Homo sapiens: one gene and its partner. The protein of the gene in region 1 purifies or fractionates together with the protein of each later gene. This does not show direct contact. Each region holds a gene or a part of one and is shown in the gene's direction. Other genes may lie near its edges.

The links.
Region 2: the proteins of MED13 (region 1) and RPAP2 purify together in Homo sapiens (affinity purification with mass spectrometry, with the first as the bait; one large-scale study listed by BioGRID). This does not show direct contact.

The regions. Positions count from the first base shown.
Region 1 is NC_000017.11:61,946,779-61,950,602, reverse strand, and holds part of MED13 (mediator of RNA polymerase II transcription subunit 13), read left to right. Parts: intron 1-3,585; coding exon 3,586-3,686; intron 3,687-3,824. UniProt on the Homo sapiens protein: Component of the Mediator complex, a coactivator involved in the regulated transcription of nearly all RNA polymerase II-dependent genes.
Region 2 is NC_000001.11:92,396,515-92,400,338, forward strand, and holds part of RPAP2 (putative RNA polymerase II subunit B1 CTD phosphatase RPAP2), read left to right. Parts: 3' UTR 1-3,824.

The DNA.
Region 1 (3,824 bases):
AGACCAGCCTGGCCAACATGGCGAAACCTCGTCTCTACTGAAAATACAAGAATTAGCCAGGTGTGGTGGCGGGCGCCTGTAGTCCCAGCTACTCGGGAGGCTAAGGCAGGAGAATCGCTTGAACCTGGGAGGCAGAGGTTGCAGTGAGCCGAGATCGTACCACTTCACTCCAGCCTGGGTGACAATATCTGAGACTCTGTCTCAAAAAAAAAAAAAACAACTAGTTTTTAAATTTATATTTTTAGAACTTTATTCCTAAGTCAAACTCCTAGGGCCCTTGTTGTTAGTGTAGATTGAGTATCCCTTATTCGAAATGCTTGGGACCAGAATTGTTTCCATTTTTGGATTTTTTCAAATTGGAGATGCTCAATCTGTTTCAACTGCATATATGGAAATTTAGAGCTGAGAGAAACTTTATATTACCTCTGTCTAACCTTCTCATTTTCTAGGTGAGCATATTTAAGTTCAGAAAAACTCACCTGTTTAAAGTCATAAATTGGTAATAGACTCAAGACTGAAACCTGGGTCTTTTAATGATTATTATGTTATTCTTTGAATTACATCATACTGCACTGCTGTTATGCTGCATTATTTTGGGGAATAAAAGATTTATAATCTTGGGCTGGGCGCAGTGGCTCATGCCTGTAATCCCAGCACTTTGGGAGGCTGAGGCAGGTGGATCACAAAGTCAGCAGTTTGAGACCAGTCTGGCCAACATGGTGAGACCCCGTTTCTACTAAAACTACAAAAAAATTAGCCAGGCGTGGTGGCACGTGCAAATTAGCTATTTGGGAGACTGAGGCAGGAGAATCACTTGAACCCGGCAGGTAAAGGTTGCAGTGAGCCGAGATCGCGCCACTGCACTCCAGCCTGGGTGACAGAGTGAGATTCCATCTCAAAACAAACAAACAAAAAAAAGATTTATAATCTTTGTAATACTTGATTTTTAGTTTCATTTACTACTTAAAAAAGTTTTTCTAGCTGTGTGTAGATTGCTGTGTTAAAAAAAAACTGAGTGGTTTTTAAATACAGTAATGAGACTCTCAGATTCATCGTGATTTATTACAACAAACTCAGGCTGGGCACAGCGATTCACCCCTATAATCCCAGCACTTTGGGTGGTCGAGGCAGGAGGATCACTTGAGGCCAGGAGTTTGTGATCAGCCTGGACAACATAGTGAAATTTTGTCTCTCTAAAAAGTTTTTAATATTAGGCATGGTGGCATGTGCCTATAGTCCTAATAACATGAAAAGCTGGGGCAGGAGGGAGGATCGCATGAGCACAAGAGGTTGAGGCTGCAGTGAGCCATGATCATGCCACTGCACTCCAGCTAGGTGACAGGAGACCCTCTCTCAAAAAAACAAAACCGAATTTGTTAGTAAGCAATGTAACATGAAGTGGAGATAAGTCACAAAATGAGATATAAAAGCCCTATACAGAATTATATTACTGCTGCTAATATTGTTCCAGAATAACAAATTTAGATGTGACTCACTTATTCTTTTTTTTTTTTTGAGACGGAGTCTCGCTCTGTCGCCCAGGCTGGAGTGCAGTGGCGGGATCTCGGCTCACTGCAAGCTCCGCCTCCCGGGTTCACGCCATTCTCCTGCCTCAGCCTCCCAAGTAGCTGGGACTACAGGCGCCCGCCACTACGCCCGGCTAATTTTTTGTATTTTTTTAGTAGAGATGGGGTTTCACCGTTTTAGCCGGGATGGTCTCGATCTCCTGACCTCGTGATCCGCCCGCCTCGGCCTCCCAAAGTGCTGGGATTACAGGCGTGAGCCACCGCGCCCGGCCGTGACTCACTTATTCTTATGTAAAACCACCGGAAGTTGACTGTTTTTAATCCACAAGTCATGCTAATTTAAATACTTGCTGCCGGGTGCAGTGGCTCACACCTGTAAACCCAGCACTTTGGGAGGCTGAGGCAGGCAGATCACCTGAGGTCAGGGATTTTCTATATACTAGTAGTCTTTGGTGTCTCCACAAAACAAAGGATTCTTTGGTCCTTTGGGAGGGTGCTACACATGCTATCTGTCCTCTTTTCTAGTCATAATACATGTATGCACACTAAAGTCTGAAAAACAGAGGTAAATAAGATAGTTTACCTAGCATTTCCCAAACTTATTAATACACAAGGAAAGGATTATTTAACACCTGTTAATAGTTTATTATCTTAGTGTTTCAGGGGATGTGTTCAGGAAACACAACTTTACAAAAAGTCCAAGGGACTATCTAGAGCTTTTCCTACTCAGTATTTATTTGCAGAAAGGATAGTATAAAGCGGGCATTCACCCTTAGATACATTGTAACAAGATTAGGACTTCTGGTTATGAACTATCACCTAAGGCATAATTTACCATACTTTTTGTTCACTTTTTTTTTTCATATATCTTATTTTAGTTTTATACTGTAGGCAGTAAAGCCACCTGGTTTGTTTCTCTTTGCTTGGAAATATAATGGGTTGTTAGCTAGATCCCTTTTTATCATAGGAATAGAGTACTGGTACTAATTACATTTTAAAAATTTGTAGTGATTTGCAGTGTGAGACTTGCTTATAACTCCATAAATCAAGAGTTTGTAGACAGTTGAAACATAGCTATTTTTGGTTATATTCCTAAATGTACTACATGAGTTTCTATATGTATTGCAGTTGCAGAGGAGAGAACACCTAAATATAAAATAGTACCTTATACAGTGTACAGAATGAGATCTACCAAGAGTTACTGCAGTGAACATCACCATTGTTTTATCATAGCTTTTTAATACTATATTGACTTATAAAAAAAATGACTCATTTAATTGGAGTGTGGAGTAGTTTATTCCTTTCTCCCACTATTCATTGCCATATCTAAATGAGTGTGCCAGTTTTTACCTACCCTCTATTATGAAATTGAGTGGGCAAAGCAGGCATCTGTGCACTGTATTACTTAGAGTGTTCTCAGTTCAACCGAAGATAGCTTGTTTAAGGTTTATTGTGCTGTAACCAAACTATTTGCTTATGCTTATTCCTGTTACTTTTTTCAGTGCTAGACGTAGGTATGTCTGCGTAGTCATAAAGGGTGTCATATATCTTAAGGACAGACTACTCAGGTTTAACTACTCAATTTAGTGCCTCCTTAAACATTTACTTTGCACATCTAGGCAAATTAGACTTAGCAGGTAATTAGAAATTCTTTTTCTAAGGATTATTGTATGGTCTCAAAAACAATAAAGCTAAAGAAAAGGAAATAGATTCAAAGTAAGTTTTGCACTTAAAAATCACTTCTGGCTAGGCACAGTGGCTCATGCGTGTAATCCCAGCACTTTGGGAGGCCAAGGCAGGAGGATTGTTTGAGGCCAGGAGTTCAAGACCAGCCTGGTCAACAGAACAAGAACCTGCCCCTACTTAAAAAAAAAAAAAAAAACATTTCTATAATGAATTAGTTAAAAGAGAACAAGCATTTTTATAGTGGCTTTCATTCATAACATAGGACTAAAATGTATTTCATCATTTTATAAGATATATTGGGAGAATAAGGTAAAACTAAATAGCAGATTATTTTCTGTTTGGCTGACTGATTGATTACCTGTTACCTTCTTAGGCCTCTTTGCACCTCCACGTGCCTTCAGTGCAATCTGACGAGCTGCTTCACAGTAAACACTCCCACCCACTTGACTCAAATCAGACTTCAGATGTCCTCAGGTACAACTCTTTTACCATTAACAGTTTGTCACTGCAACTTTAAAAGAATATAATGTTGATTCTTATATATTTTTCTCATTTTTGGCAAGAATTTACAGTTGTGTACCAGTGGATCTCTAGATAAACACTGCTATTCTA
Region 2 (3,824 bases), on another chromosome or scaffold:
AAATTAGCAGTTGCATGGGTCTGATGTGAAAACATGGATTGCCTGCAGATGGGCACAAGGGATCTTTTGGGGGTGACAAAAATGTTCCAAAACTAAGTTGTAATTTTTGCACAACTTTTATGTGTGTGTGTGTGTGTGTGTGTGAGATGGAGTTTCACTCTTGTTGCCCAGGCTGGAGTGCAATGGCGCGATCTCAGCTCACCACAACCTCCGCCTCCTGGGTTGAAGCATTTCTCCTGCCTCAGCTTCCTGAGTAGCTGGGATTACAGGCATGTGCCACCATGCCCGGCTAATTTTGTATTTTTAGTAGAGACAGGTTTTCTCCAGGTTGGTCAGGCTGGTCTCGAACTCCTGACCTCAGGTGATCCTCCTGCCTCGGCCTCCCAAAGCGCTGGGATTACAGGCGTGAGCCACCACACCCAGCCATTTTTGCACAACTTTATAAACTTTAAAAATAATTGATTTATGCACTTAAAACAGGTAAAGTTTATGTGTATAAATTATACCTTAATAAAGCTATTAAAAGTCAAAGATTATAACAGGGCCTCTCTCTCTCTGACCTAGTGACCTAGGGTAAAGAGAAAAAGAAGCTAGCCAGGCACAGGGGCTCACACCTGTAATCCCAGCACTTTGGGAAGCCAAGATGGGCTGATTGCTTGAGTCCAGGAGTTTGAGACCAACTTGGGCAACATAGCAAAACCCTGTCTCCACCAAAAATAAAAAAAATTAGCCAGGCATGGCGGTGTATGCCTGGAGTCCCAGCTACTCAGGAGTCAGAGGTGGGAGGATCACTTGAGCCCAGGAGGCAGAGGTTGTAGGGAGCCAAGATTGCACCACTGCACTCCAGCCTGGGTGACAGAGCAAGACACTGTCTCAAAAATTAAAAATTAAAAAATGAGGGAAGCTGCTGTATCTCCACTTCTTCCCTCTCTGTGCCCAGAGATATCTCTTCAGTTATCTCACATGCCCTACAAGTCTAGAGACCTCAGGTGAGGAGCCAGTAGCTCAGTATAGAAACTAAGGATCCAAGTGGACAACTGCCACCAAGTCACCACAGGGCCAGCTGCTTTGGGAGGGTGCTGCATCTGCCTCCCATACACTTCTGCCAAGTTTATGTTAGTTTGGGAGGACTGAAGCAGAATTCAGTTCAAAGTACTGTGCTGGATTTTGGTTTCTAAATATTTTCCAATAGAAAAGAACCCAGGCTTCTTGAGAAAATAGCTAGGTTCTAAGGCTAGAGCCAAAAAAATGCAAGATAAGCCTGGAGCATCTTGTAGTACCAGAAACTAAGCAAGTGCTCAAAAACAAAAGGATAGAAGCATGTCAGACAGACACAGGAGCCAATCTGAAAGAGCTCCCTGGCCGGGCACGGTGGCTCACGCCTGTAATCCCAGCACTTTGGGAGACTGAGGTGGGAGGATGACTTGAGCCCAGGAGTTTGAGACCAGCCTGGGCAACATAGGGAGACCCCATCTCTACAAAAAAGTAAACAATTAGCCGGGCATGGTGGCACACGCCTATAGTCCCAGCTACTCAGGAGGGTGAAGATCACCTGAGACCAGGCGGTCAAGGCTTCAGTGAGCCATGATTGTGGCACTGCACTCCAGCCTAGGCAATAGAGTGAGACTGTCTCAAAAAATAAAATTTTAAAATAACTGAAGAGTATAACTGGATTGTTTGTAACACAAAGGATAAGTGCTTAAGATGATGGAAACCCTATTTATCCTGATGTGATTATTACACATTGCATGCCTGTACCAAAATATTTCATGTAACCCATAAATATATACATCTACTATGTACCCACAAAAATTAAAAAATGTTTACAGGAGTGAACCACCGCACCTGGCCAGTGGAGTCTTTTTAAGGTATTATTTAGCATCTTCTGCTTATAGTCATGTCCAAAAACCAGTTGATCTTCCTACTCATTAGGGGACAAGATCAATTCTCTAAAAAATTAACCTAGCCCAAGGTAAGTGGTACTATTCTGAAATCTGAAAATCTTTAGTAGCCTCACATTATAAGCCCTTCGTAGAAAAAGAAAAGTAAGCATTTCTAGAAGCACATTTTTGTTGGACTGAGGGTGGGGCAAGGAGCAGGGGTGACTTTCATCTGAAATGTACCTAGGCAGGCCAGAGTCTGAGTTAGGACTGGCTCCTGGGACTTTGCCATCCAGGCCAAGAAGCATGCTCCAGTGTGCATGCACTCTCATCAAAGCCCTAGTCAGGAATCCCAGCCACTCCTCTCCTGTGCAGCACAAGCTGAAGGATAAGGTGTGGGGCAGTGACTGCGTGGGGCTGCCTGTGTGATTCCTGATAAAGAAATGCCTTCATGAAATGTATTGTTCCCCAATAAAGCTCATTTTCTGTGAGAATTCATGTGTCCTTTTCCAAATTAAACTAGCAAAATATGAACTTTTGTAAAAGGTCCACACCCAGCCAGTTTTCTACTCTCTAAATGTTCAGGCCTTTGCCTGTCCTTCCCTCAGCAAAAATACTGTGTTTTGGAAAACATTACCAATAAAGGAGCTGGGAGGTGGAATTGGATCAAAATACCTTTAGATGAAAGCAGCAGCACAAGCCATTCCCTTTAAATGAGCTGGCCTCACCTCTGGGGCCTATGAAGAAAAGCCTGCTTCAAGGTGATAGTTTTCATTTTGCTTCCCAGCACCTCTGCAGTCATAACCAAAGTGAAGGACAATATTGCATGACTTCAGAAGAAAGCCATCCAGCCACCTTGCAACATGTTCAGGAAATTCTGGACTCCCTTGGGGCTTGCAAAACTCCCTATGTCTTGCAGACCAAAAGCAAGTTCTCAGTCACCTAGCTCTAGTTTGCATAATTAAAGAAAGTGGAAGCTGGTTCTTTTCTGGGTGACCCTTCACCCAACCAAGCTCATAAGGACTTGTGACAAAAATAAGAGCAATAAAATGAAGTTTTAACAGTGAAAACTTCTATCACTTAGATAAGCAGGAAAAGCCAGTCCCCTAGATGCCCATCTGACCCTACCTTACTGGGGTCATACAGCCAAAGCAGTGTCCACTTCAGGTACTGTAATGTTTTGAAGTTGACACATATAATTTAATGTAGTTTCATGTCATAAGTTATAAGACTTTTCAGAGAAACAATTTAGTAATATCTTCTGTAATACCCATCTTCATTTTTTATATGAAAAAGCATAGCCTATGATCTGTCACCTTGCTCACTCCCACATCCTTACCTCTTATCCTTCTCACATCGTCCCATTAACACATTATCCATCTTTGGGGGGAAAAAATACACTAAATTTTAGACAGAGTCACTTTCACTATGGCCACAATGGGAGAAAAGACAGTCCACCTTCAAAGTCAACCAGAATGACTCTTAACCTCTCTTGTCTGGGTTGGGCATCCAGATAAGATTTTCTTCGTACAAAGAGTCTTGCTACTAGGAAAAAGAGTTTGAAAATCACTAGTCTAACTAAATATCTCACTTTAAAAAAAGCACAAACTAAGACTCAATGAGGTTTATCTTCCACAAGATCAGCCAGTTTTAGCAGAGCAGTTGCTAAAACCCAGGTCTCAAACTCCTTGTCTATGGCTCATCTAACTAAGCAACAAAAAGCCCAATGAGCTCTGGAGAGAGAGAGGGAGCTAAAACAGGACTCAATCAAAACCCACTTGGGATTAGGGAAGCCACCCTCTGTGAGTGAGTTAAACTGAGATTCCCTCCCCTTCACCCTGGCTTCCTTTGCAGAACAAGGGTCACCGCCAGAGGGAAAGCTGAGTTTACGGAGGGGATCCTGGTTGGAGTCAGAGTATACCTTGGTTTGGTTTTGTGGGGTTT